Linked DNA regions of Homo sapiens: all the other regions are reported to be linked to region 1. Evidence: microRNA targets listed by miRTarBase, many of them from high-throughput screens and not tested one by one. Region 1 holds a microRNA gene; each other region holds the end of a gene's coding sequence.

What was found. The annotated mature microRNA hsa-miR-4771 reads AGCAGACUUGACCUACAAUUA and lies in region 1 at 1,330-1,350, opposite strand. An mRNA with a match to its seed (bases 2 to 7 or 8) in the 3' UTR can be bound and repressed. Matches are read on the target gene's strand: a 7mer-m8 pairs with bases 2 to 8, a 7mer-A1 pairs with bases 2 to 7 and ends in A, and an 8mer does both.
Region 2: the mRNA of NPLOC4 is a reported target of hsa-miR-4771. Seed matches in the 3' UTR shown: 7mer-A1 at 1,038-1,044 and 8mer at 1,100-1,107.
Region 3: the mRNA of PDP1 is a reported target of hsa-miR-4771. Seed matches in the 3' UTR shown: 7mer-A1 at 1,518-1,524.

Annotation. Positions count from the first base shown.
Region 1 is chr2:87,191,937-87,196,179 of GRCh38, reverse strand. MIR4771-1 (microRNA 4771-1) reads right to left here and starts at 1,394; the gene lies at 1,321-1,394. It also overlaps the pseudogene LOC102724642.
Region 2 is chr17:81,555,509-81,559,751 of GRCh38, reverse strand. It overlaps NPLOC4 (NPL4 homolog, ubiquitin recognition factor), which reads left to right. Exons shown (of 17, transcript NM_017921.4): 17 at 336-2,865. The coding sequence ends at 493. It overlaps LOC124904085 (a long non-coding RNA gene), which reads right to left. Exons shown (of 2, transcript XR_007065947.1): 2 at 2,433-4,243. Among named protein-coding and RNA genes, the nearest start is that of FAAP100, 5.3 kb to the right of the region's middle. RefSeq lists enhancers at 40-539, 540-1,041.
Region 3 is chr8:93,922,896-93,927,138 of GRCh38, reverse strand. It overlaps PDP1 (pyruvate dehydrogenase phosphatase catalytic subunit 1), which reads right to left. Exons shown (of 2, transcript NM_018444.4): 2 at 1,071-4,243. The coding sequence ends at 3,466. Among named protein-coding and RNA genes, the nearest start is that of PDP1, 8.1 kb to the right of the region's middle.

The DNA.
Region 1 (4,243 bases):
CGCTCTCTCGGCTCACTGCAAACTCCACCTCCTGGGTTCACCCATTCTCCTGCCTCAGCCCCCCGAGTAGCTGGGACTACAGGTGCCCACCACCACGCCCAGCTAATTTTTTTTGTATTTTTAGTAGAGATGGGGTTTCAACGTGTTAGCCAGGATGGTCTCGATCTCCTGACCTCGTGATCCGCCGGCCTCGGCCTCCCAAAGTGCTGGGATTACAGGCATGAGCCACTGCGCCCAGCCTCGGCTGAGCATTCTTAATCCAAAAATCCCAAATCCAAAATGCTGTAATGAACATTTCCTCTGAGCATCATGTTGGTGCTCAAAACGTTTTCGATTTCAAACACTTCAGATTTCAGATTAAGGATACTCAAACCTGTATATGATTTGATAGAATTTACCCATTCTAGACTTCAGAAAGTGACCTATAACTACATGTGAAACTACTAATATTGTTTAATTTTATATATATATATATATATATATATATAAATTCTTTAAATATAATGTGCAAAAGTGCCTGTCTACCTTCAAATACTATCTAAGTGGTATTTTACTGGTTCTAATACAGTTGACCATTGAACAACCCTGTTTGTCCAGCCTGGCCTGAAAAGAAGTCTATACTTTTAAAATGTCTTCCTTTTCCTTTTAGTAGTTTGACTATTAATGTGACTAGGTATGGTTTTCTTTGTATTTATCCTGCTTAGGGTTCACTGTGGGTTAATATTTAACACCATTTTTCAAAATTCTTAGCTTCTGTCTCTTCAAATATTGCTTCTAACTCATTTTTTCTCTCCTCTTATTCTCTTATTCCAACCCCATGCATGTTTATTTTTTTTTTCACGGTTTCCACATGTCTCTTGTACTCTTCTCTGTATTTCCTAACCATTCTTCCCTCTGTGCTTCAGTTTGTTTACTTTCTACTTGTCTTCCAGCAGATAAGTGTCTTCCAGTTCACTTCAAATAATCCAATACTGAGATCTTCATTTCAGTTACTATATTTTTCAGTTCTAGAATTTCCATTTAACTCTTTTTTATTGACCCCAGGTTTCTGGTGAAATTCCCTATCATTCCTTCTATTTTCCTGGAAACATTAGACATAGTTATTTTAAGTTCCAGTATGATAACTCCAATATCTGAATCACACATAAGTCTGTTTCTATTATCTGTTTTTTTATTATTATTATGTTTCATAATTTTTGATTCAACACTGAATCCTGTAGACTAAAAATTGTGGGGGCTCTGGGTATGTTTTCTTTCTCCTATGAAGGTTACATTTTCTTCTGTCAGGTGGGGAGAAAGCACACAGATCACCTTAGTTCTGCTCTAGGCTAATTGTAGGTCAAGTCTGCTTGGAGTGAAACTGAAGCAGACCAGATCTAAAATTAGGCTAGAGCAGGCTTAGGGCTTGGCCATGTATTAATTCACCTGAGGAGCTGGGATGCTGATCAGAGCCACTTCACTTTAACAAGCGTTGAATTCCACCCTTTGTCTCCTCAGTCCTATGCTGCTGCTGACATTTTTGCTTACATTTTTGGCCTTGTGGCTTCTGCTAGATCTCTTGAAGTCTTATCCCATGTATATGAAGGCTAAAATATCATTAAGTAACTCAAGGGAAAGGTATATCCAGAGTCTGAGTTATGATTTCTATCGTTCTCTCCTGCCTGAGACTGTGTTCCTCAAGTTCTAGGCTCTTGGGCAATCACAAACCCAACCTCTGGCTCCTCAGCCCTGCAGCATTGCTGCTTTTTGCTGGCACTCTACTTCTTGTACTATGAACTGGCAAATGCCTTTGGGGGAGAAGCTAGGGTGAATATAAAGCTCTCCCTGTTGTACTTCCCTTTTCTTATTTTTTTTTTTTTTAGCTTTTATATTTGTTTTTGAGGGCAAGTGAGTCCAATACAAGCAATTCCATCATGGCCATAACCAGAAGTCTCTAGATAGTAAACTTTTATCAGAGGCTTGCAAAACAGCAAAAAACTAGTAATGTAATTAAACTTCAAGTTTAAATGATTAAATGGAACAATCTTTGCCCTTATCAGAAAATATTTTTTTTGAGAATCTCAGAAAAATTGGGTGCTTAGAATTCATCATATCTTAGTATTCAGCTTAATGGATAAATTTTTTTTATCTGTTTCTGTATTCTGAAAAATACAATCAGGTGATAATACTATTAATTTTTAAAACTATTATAAAAAAATTCAAACACAAAATTAGGTATTTATTAGTTGTAAAGCTTTGTAATATTAGAAATTAAGATTATATGTGATTCTAAAAAACCCAACTGAAAACCTAGAAAATAAAGAAAAATAGCTTTAATAAAAAAATCAATTAGTAAAGAATAATATGGAATATTTAGTTTATTAGTATAGATCAGTGTTTGGGGCTCTGTGAAGAAGAATCCATCCTTTTCTGAATAAAAATGAAAGTTATTCATATATAAAGTTGATAATTTTTTCTTTTTTGCTCCAAAACAGTCCCTAACAATGACACTGCAACATTAATGAAGAGGAAAGTCAAACTAGGGGCAGTAACTACTGAGAAACTAGAACGTAAAGGGGTAGGTAACAGAGGTACTGAAGATAAGACTTAGATATGCAATTACCTTCTAGTCCTATAGGTGGCAGGTGCTGTGGAGCTGGCACAGAGTGGTAGACGAGGAAGCAGGCCAGCATGCTCAGCTGTGATTCCTCCAAGGGCTGCCCGCTGAGGTAGGCGTGCACACACATATCACCCCCGACTGTGAGAGAAACAAATGGAACGGAACCAACTGATGACAGAACTGAGAGGCACAAGAAATATCTTCTATTACTTTTTCATCAAGAACTTATTGAACGCTCAGCATATATAAAGCAGGTTCTATAGCCGGTATTGAGGCTACTCTGACAAGCTAGACTGAGTCCCTGTCATTGTAGAGTTTAGAGTGTTGTTGGGGGAGACAGATATTACACAAATAATGACACAAACAAATGCATAATTACAAATTGTGATGAGTGCTATAAAGGTGCAGTGGTCACTGTGGTTGTCTCCCCGAAATACCCCTTGTCGCACCCTACCCTCCACCATATATTATATTTGATGGGACTGACTTCAGCTCCAGAACTAGATCCTTACTAGTCTTGGCCAGGGGTCCTCAAACTTTAACATGTGCCAGAATCACCTGGAAGGCTTGTTAAACCACAGATGAGTGGGCCCCACTCCATGCACAGAGCACAGAGATTCTTATTCAGTAGGTCTGGGGTGGGGCCAGAAAAACTCCATTTCTAACAAGTGCCCAGGTCATGCTGCTCCATAAACCACACTTTGAGAATCACTGATCTTGGGTGATCAAGGCAATCCCATTCTCCTGATGCAGTGTTAGTTCAGAGACAGGCAAACCCAGGCCATTTTTTCAATAAGAGACATTCTCTGCCACAGGGATAGATTGAGAGGTGTGCATGAGATGCAACTCGAGCCAGAAACCTGAGGAGGTACTTAATGACAAGCTTGCTGGAGGCTCCAGGGAAAGAAATTCCCTCATTCTCATCACAAAACTCCTAGAAGCAACTCTATTCTTCCTCTGAGTATCATGCTGAGCTAGAGGTGAACATGTTACAGCCATTTGATTACCATCTGAAAAATGCACTGAGGATAAAGTCATGGCACAGAATGTAGCTGATGGAACCTCAGAGAAATGGAGTTGAAGACACTGGAAAAAGATGACCCTTTACGTGCCTTACCTGCAGACCTCTAATAACATAGGCATACTTGTGTCCTTACTGTTTAAAGGCAGGTTAAGTCAGGCCTTCTGTTACTTGCAAACAAAGGCATTTTGATACAGAAAAAAGGTAGAGAGCATGAGCGGGCAGGCTAAAGATGTCAGGAAAGCTGCCTGAGGGAGAGTGGTCTTGGAAGGCCTGGGAGGAAATGCCATTAAAACTGAGGCTGCATGGATAAATATGAGTTGGGCAGGTGAAGAATGAGAGGAAAAGGTTCTAGGGAGGGAAAACAGCATATTCAATGGCCCCACAGTGAAAAGGAGCTCAGTGTTTTTGAGCAAGTGGAAGGGGCCAGGGTGGTGTGGGGAGCAAGTGGTATAAAAGAGGCTTTGTTGAGGAAAACAGGCGCCTTGCAGGTCACACAGGTCCTGGTGCCACACAGTAGGGATTTCTTTCACAGCTGAATCAGGAGCCATTGAAAAGCTTTAAGCAGGAGTGTTACATCAGTTTATTCTTTAAAAGACTGTTCTGTCAGTTAAATTGAGATG
Region 2 (4,243 bases), not on the chromosome of region 1:
CAGAAAAAAAAAAAAAAAAAAAAAGCTGGAAACAACCCAAATGCACATCCCCCGGGGAGTTACGTTATTCACAAGGAGAAGCACCCTCTGCAACAAAAAGGAACCAGCAAGCACAGGCTCCCTGTTACTCCCTGTGGTGCAGGAGGCATTTTTCTGAGGGCATTAAGCACTTCAAAGTGTGCCTGTGGTGGGAGTGCTGTGTGGGCAGGACCAGCACTGGGTGGGATGTTGGGGGCGGGGAGCTCTCAGCTGCCTGCCCCTGCCCCCATGCCCACACTCTGGCAGTCTCTGGTGGGCCAGAAATGATGAGTGCTCATTTCTCTTCCACCCTGCAGGCACAGTTGGCGGGCAGCTCCCAGGTCTCCATGAGTACGGCGCCGTCGGGGGCTCCACACACACGGCCACTGCAGCCATGTGGGCCTGTCAGCACTGCACGTTCATGAACCAGCCAGGCACAGGCCACTGCGAGATGTGCAGCCTCCCCAGGACCTAGGGCGCCTGCCCTCTGCTGGCTAGGACCGGGCCCAGCCCAGCCCTTCCTGAAGCCAGAAGCGTTGCTGAGTGTGTTCCCTGTAACTGCCCCATAGTGGGCAGCCCTGGAGGAACAAGGGGCTGGCTGTCCTGGGCTCCCTGACCCACTGAAGCTTCTCAGCACGTTCCTCCCTGGAGAGCGGGCGCCACGGCTGGTATTCTGCAGGCTGAATGCAGTCTCCAGACTGGAAACGCAGAGCGGCTCCTCACGCCTAATCCTGTTGACAAGTCCCCCGCCGTGTTGGAAAGACCTCTCGCCTCTACGTGGCACCTGGAATTGGGGCGCACAGGGAGGGGCCGATGCTGCCACCACCCAGCCTTCTCTTTATTTTCAGTGCTTTTTGTTTGGCCTCCCTGCCCCCATGTTTTTCTGGCTGGGAGCTCTTGGTTACCCCCTTGTCTGACTGCTTGGTGGCAGGCACCCTGCCTGTGAGGGCCACTTTCCTCTTCTAGTAGCTGTTGTCTGGTGGGGACGCAGTGGCCCTGGACACGGCTCCCCTCTGCAGGTCTGCAGGTCGGTTTGCTGCCTGCCCTCCTCCTCTCACCCGATGTCCAGGTGGGATTTTAAAGTCTGCATTGGTTATAATAACAGTTATCAGTAATTCCTGCCCAGAAGACTTTTATTTATTTTTTTTTAAGATAAAAACTGCACAAAAGGGGAGTGAGAGAGACTAGTTTCCACATCCTTCCCTCCTTTAGTGAAGCCCCCGAGGTTGTGTCCAGGGTGATGAGTGTGGACGGGGGCACCAGTCAGTTCTCCCTTGAAGTAAACCTCAGTGCCTGAGACTTTTCTACCAAGCCACACAGCTGCAGCAACTGCAGATACTGCGGGCTGAGCAGGAGCAGTGGTGGCGCCTGCCCTGAGGCTGCCCTGCGATGGCCTGGGTGGGAGAGCTGGGTCACCGGTGCCGATGCTCTGGCCCTCCCCAATACGCTGCTTCGTCCCACTGCACCGCCTGGCTGAGGGCGTTAGGGGCTGTGCCTCTTGTGAGGGCCATTTGGGACCTCCCTGGGGCACTGCACAATTGATAGTGTACCAATAGAGGGAGACTGGGCGATCTGGAACAGCACGTGGTGGGGTCCTGCTTGTGTGCTCTGCGTTCCTCTGTGGCGTGGCCAGGCCGGGGCATGGCTCTTACCCGGGGAGTGGTGGGCATCTCGATGCTTCTTTGCCTTAATGATGGCCACATCTGGGCTGCTCTGCACCCACGGGAGAGGCTGGCCCAGCTGCAGACTGCTTAGGGACTTCTGTGTCCATCCTGGGGGGTAAGCCCACGTGACCCACATTCTTGGCACTATGAACAGAGAACATTTGCCTGTTGGCTTCTGAAGTGGTCAGGGCCATGGCTGACACCTCCAGGTCCGCCTGGCATGGGACACCAAGTGGAAGGCCCAAGCAGCTCATCTGCTCTTGGGACCAGGGGCCAGTTGGGTTGGGTCTGGTCACGGCAGAGCTATTGTGGAGGGTCAGGAAGGGTGGAGAGGAGCTGGGTTGAAGCGGACTGCTGCGGATGCAACTCCCAGCTTGCCCACCGCGGGCTGTCTGCTCTCCCTCCTAGCAGCTGTCACACTGAAGTTTTGTCCTCTGCTGTCTCCTCTGGTCCTGAGATGAGCTGTGAGCCTAGGTGGCCAAGGCTTCCTGCATTGCTTCCCTGTGAGTCCAAGGCCTTCCCCCACCACTGGGCAGAGGCTGGACAGCACGGACTTCTAGAGAGAGCCGCGTTGCCAGTTCCTCTCCCACTCGCTCGTCCTTATCCACCACGCTATTATAGTTTCCGTTGTCCTCCACCAGCATTTCCCTTACTCTGAAGTTCCGGCATTCACATCATTCATGTTTTCTTTTGTCTTTTAGCTAAAGGAAAAGCATTGGCGATTTGTCTGATTCTGGTTTTGAGTTACTCTTTGTTCAGTAATGCACTTTATTTTATTGTCCAAAGAGAGTCAGAGCTAAGCATACAGGCTTGGGGGTGAGCCCTGCTGTGAGAGTTCAGGCCCTGGGAGGCTCAGCCACCTCCTCTTGTGGGAAGGAGGTCTCAGCCCCACCTCGCATCTTCACCTGCCCTTGGTGTGGACACACCCTCTCATGCTACCAGCACCATAATCCAGTGGGGGTGACTGGGTGCACACCTGCCCAGGTGAACACAGCGGCTGCCAGTCTCCTGGTCCCGAGAGGAGGTGGGGCCTGGCCCTGGCTCCCTCCAACCAGCTGCTCCTGGGACACAGGTGCTCCTGCTTCGGCTCTGTTTCGGCTCACAGGTGTGCATCACTGGGCTTGGATTTGCATTACATTGACCCCAGCCCTGCAGTGGAACCTAATAAAAGCGCCTGAAGCAACTGCCTGGTCCTGGTGTGTCCTTCCTGCGCACTCAACTGTTGTCTGGCATCTGCTCAGTGTGGGGGGATTTGATAACTTGTCTCCAAGATATCACTGTTTTACGTGTATGTGCATGGTCCATTTAAAGGTGGGGATCCCACTTCCCCAGCCGATCCCTCCCAACCTTGGCTCCTCGATAAGTTTCTTAAAGTGCTAACATCTGGGGGAGGAGGAGAGTGCGTCAGTGTTTGACGGCCCCGCCGCCCTTGGGTGCCTCTTCTGCCTCTGCCGCACCTGTCAGCCCTGCGACTGCCCCACAGTCACTGCTTTGTGGACAGGTACATGTGGTCAAACAGCAGGTGAAGGACAAAGCCCAGGAAGGCCAGACTGCACAGGTGCAGCAAGGAGTGAGGCCTGGGGGTGACACACTGCCTGTGTTCCTGCTTGAGCTGTCTTTCCCTGTGACAACAGAAAGCGTCTAGAACAAGTGCTCTCTGAGCCTCAGATAGGAGCCTGGCAGTCACTGTTCAGCACCACTTTGTCCTTTGGTCAGTGACTCATAGCTGACTTGAGCAGTTACTAAAAAAAACTCCAACTAATTTCTGAAGGAGGGCCCTGGGGTGAAGCAGGCCACAGGACAGTGACCAAGGTGTCCTGGCTTCTGGACTCCAGGAGCGAGAGGGTGAGTCCCCCAGCACCCGGACTCCAATCCTGCACCTTCAACACAGTGCAGTTCACTCGATTTACCCACAGCTCCTGGGATCGCTTGAGCCCAGGAGGTTGAGGCTGCAGCCAGCTGTGATCGCAAGTCCAGCCTGGGCCACGGGGTGAGACCCTGTCTGAAAAAAAATTTAAAAAGCTGAGGTGAGGAGGCTCGGGGAGGTTGTATCAGAGAAAGCAGCAGCCTGGGCCATGCAGTGAGCCAGTACCTGATCATGGCCGTCTTATGTGAGAGCCAGTGAAGATCCTTGGCATCCTCTTTGGTTCGATGTAAAGATAAAAGCCGGGCGCAGTGGCTCACACCTGTAATCCCAGCACTCTGGGAGGCCGAGGCAGGTGGATCACCTGAGGTCAGAAGTTCTGGCCAACCCGGTGAAACCCTGTCTCTACTAAAAATACAAAAACTAGATGGGCCTGGTGGTGCACACTTGTAATCTCAGCTACTTGGGAGGCCCAGGCTGGAGGATCACTTGAACCCCGGGGGCAGAGGTTGCAGTGAGCTGAGACTGTGCCACTGCACACTCCAGCCTGGGCAACAGAGCAAGACTGTCTCAAACAAAAAAAACAAAAAAACTGGGTGTGGCAGCTCACACCTACAATCCCACCACTTTGGGGAGGCCAAGGCTGGTGGATCACTTGAGGTCAGGAATTCAAGACTAGCCTGGTCAACATGGTGAA
Region 3 (4,243 bases), not on the chromosome of region 1:
GGGGGAGACTGACAACATCCATCAATAGAGAATGGATAAATTGTGATACATTCAAACACTGGAATGCTACCCAGTAATAAGGAACAGACTATGAATACAATCAACAACATAAGTGAATCTCCAAAAATTGAGCAAAAGTAAAACATAAAAAGTACATATGTGGGCCAGGTGCAGTGGCTTACGCCTGTGATCCCAGTACTTTGGGAGGCTGATGTGGGCAGATCACTTGAGGTCAGGAGTTTGAGACCAGTCTGGCTAACATGGTGAAATCCCGTCTCCACCAAAAATACAAAAGTTAGCCATGTGTGGTGGCACATGCTTGTAGTCCCATCTACTTGGGAGGCTGAGGCAGGATGATTGCTCAAACCCAGGATGCGGAGGCTGCAGTGAGCCGAGATCATGCACTCCAGCCAGGGCGACAGAGCAAGACTGTCTGAAAAAAAAAAAAAGTACATGTATGATTTATATAAATTTCTAGAAGCAAAATTATGGTGAGAGAAGTGGAATGATACTTATGAGGGGAGGGATTAATGGAAAGGGGCATAGGGAATTTTCTGAAGAAAAAGTTTTATATCTTTGTTGGGGTGTTACCAAATGTTACATCGCAAATTTTAAATCTGTGCATTTTGTTTAAATTATACCTCAATTTTGGCCAGGCATGGTGGCTCACACCTGTAATCCAAACACTTTGGGAGGCCGAGGCGGGTGGATCACAAGGTCAGGAGTTGAAGACCAGCCTGGCCAACATGGTGAAACCCCATCTCTACTAAAAATACAAAAATTAGCCAGGTGTGGTGGCCCGCACCTGTAGTCCCAGCTACTTGGGAGGCTGAGGCAGAAGAACTGCTTGAACCCAGGAGGCAGAGGCTGCAGTAAGATGAGATCGCACCACTGCACTCCAGCCTGGGTGACAGAGCGAGACTCCATCTCAAAAAAAAAAGAAAAAAAATTTTACCTCAATTTTTACAAATTTGAAGTACTATGTATCTACTGGGTCCTAAAATTAAATATAATCTACCACACATAGGAAGCATCTAATCAATCTTGTTATTAAAAACCAACACAGGACATTCAGAAAGCAGATATGAAGCTTTAATTCACCATAGGCATTTCTCCAACCATTCTGTACATTAAACTTTCATGTCTTCACACATATACATCTTTTATAAGACAGTTTTCTTAGCAATATGGTACTCTGTACCATACCAACATTCCATTTAACTAGTTAAGGGTGTATTATATAACATGAACCACTGATTAAATATAAATACAGAAGTTGAATACATAGGTTAGAAAGTTTAAATTTTAAAAAAATTTAAGAAAGGCTAAATACCATGAAAGTTTACATGTATTCTTTAATTCTAGACACCGTACAACAGTGACAACCAATTACAATAAAATCACAATTGCTTTTAGATGACAGTACTTTCAGATTTCTAATACCCAATTACTTTCATTTCCACAATGTCAACTTCATGCTGCATTTTCATTTCTATAGAGCAGACAAGCTTCCAGACTGCAGACCAAGTTTCTTGTGTAATAATACTACTATCTTGATCATGACCACAGGAAACCAATTTTATATTCCCTGTACTATAGAGATGAGACATTATTTGGTGTATATGAAACTCTTCAGTGGTGGTGTTCAAGAATATTCAAATAGTAGCTGAAAATAGGGTTTGCTAGAGCAGTCCACATATTTCATTAAAAGAAAAATGCCCAGTCAAAACATTTAGAAATAAATATATAGTACAGCCTTTCCCTCTCCCAAATACTACCCAGGAAAAAAGTTCCAAGCTGACTTAAAAAAAAAAAAACACACAAATAAAAACAAAAACACCTCAAAAAATAAACATTATATGATATTCTGAGCAGCAATCTTCCTGAGTCTATTTTCAATTGAAACAAATTCTGCAGCCAATAGTACACTGATTCAGTATCCACAGTCCAGAAGGAGTTCTTGAACATCTAGTTCATATCCCCAAAAAATGTGAAAAGACTCCTAAACACCCAAGTTATTACACAATGGGAAGCTGATATTGGCTTGTATTAAAATCCAGGTGAATATCAAACATAATCACAGCCTTAACAGTGATGCTAGAATAAGTGATGACAATATGTGCACAGCTGTATACAGATCACTATTAAACACAGGAACAAAATGCCACTTGATGCATATCAAAAAGCCAATTTGAATATATTTATTTCATTTACATTGATACAGTATTAGAAGGGACTGAATATAATTATGGAGACTGCTGCAAACATTTGATGCCACTAAGTATTCTATTAAGCATCAGGCATGCACAGTAGTTACCTTTTAAAGTTTCTCATGTATATATCTTAACACATATATCTTAAGCTACAATATGTTTAAAGCATTTAGTCATTTTAAACCCAAATATTTTAATTGACCTATGTCTAAATGGAGAAAAACAGAAACTTCCTCCTGTCTCAATACCCGATGGCAATATTAAACCTTACTCCCCAAATTGATATTTAAACTTATTTATGTCATCTTTAAAATTCCAAAAATAATGAAAAGTCTTATCATTACTAAATAAGAAGTACGATTCCCCGGCAGCAGTCTACCCACCACACACTTACGGCATGCCAAGCCTTTGGGGATTACATAAGAGTGATGTGCTGGTGGCTACAGATGACAATAATTGAAGAGATCAGTCTCTTCTTTTTATTCTGGATCTCCTTATTTTAAACTAAAGCTTTTCATTAATACAAATAAAAAAATCTTTTTTTCTTTCTTTAACTTCAATAGAAGAGTAGATAAAACTAAAAACCCTTATTGTCTCCAAGTGTGTGGCAAAATAGAAAATCTTTCAATTACATTAGGAAATCGGGTGGATAACGGAGTATAGTTATTCCACTTAAGAAGCATTCCAGTCAAATAATCACAAAAACAAATTCAGATTGCTTGGATCTTGGTCATTTATGGCTTGAAGAACTGGATTTGAAAACCACTTTAGGCTAAAATAAATGTATATGAATAATGCATAGACTGTGTATCTAGAAAATCATGCAATAAATATATGTTCTCATGTACACTGGAATCTCAGTGAAGAAAGGTGTGAACAGTACTGTTTCTTCACTTTAACCAAGAGACTACACACAGCAAGATACTTGCTTTTGGCCTATTCAAGATCTTATTTGCCAGGTCATCCTAATTTTCTCAGGTTGGTAAAAGAAGCTAATGTTTCAAGACACCTGTGATAAAGAAGTGACTTGCTTCAAGTGCAGGTGCCATGAAATCTGAGCTAGGCAGGACCAGACTCTCCTGACCCTGCCACCCTGCTGCAAAGTCAATTTGGAGTACCTGACTAGCTAGAGTATCAAAAGGGTAAATGCTTAGAATGACCAACTGGAAATGTTTATTATAGTAGTATCTTTTTAAAAAATCTGCCCTTTAAATGTATATCATTTGAGAATTGCCAGTGAAAGAGCCACTCACTATTCTTGGTTTTGATACGCCCCTACAACATGAGAATTGAACTGAACTACAATGATTGTAATGTCATCTCTGTACATTCGAGCAAGCTCTTCAGGAAGACTAAGCATTTTAGAGAGGCGCTCATGATCAACAGTCCCAAACTCGTTGTTGCCCACAGCGTGGCGAATGAGATGGGTTGCTGCGTTCTGATCCTCAAATACCGAGGACATTTTGGTTCTCCTTTCTGTTAAAAGGCCATGCATCTGTCCCAGAGTCACCTTGTAGCCACCAACAGCTATTGGCTGTTGGTGATGCATGCCAGTTAGGTACTCACCCACAATCCTAACCACATCCTGCCTATGCATAGTCTCCCACAACCCATCAGTAGCCAACACCAGAAACTTATCCTGTGGCCTTAATCGGTGGTAAGTTACCTCTGGCTCAGCAGTGAGATAAGGAGGTGTGTGATAATTAGGAGGAATAAACTTGGTATATTCATTGTCATTCAACTGGTCTGGGCCAGATTCTATCACTCTCTTTTGAAGGTCAATGCTCCATTTGAACTTTACATCTCCAAATGCCCTAAATGGCATCAGCAAGCCAAGCAGCCGATCCTGTTTCACGACACTCTTGGCCTCACTCTTTGGATGTTCCAATTTCAGCCGTTCTAGTTCTCTTTCATTTTGAGCATTGTGGTCATTAGACAGCGTGACTGCTGACCATGAGCCGTCCTCTTCCTGCACACCCAGCATGGCTCTGCTATCGCCAGTATTGGCCACATGAAGGTCAACACCATCC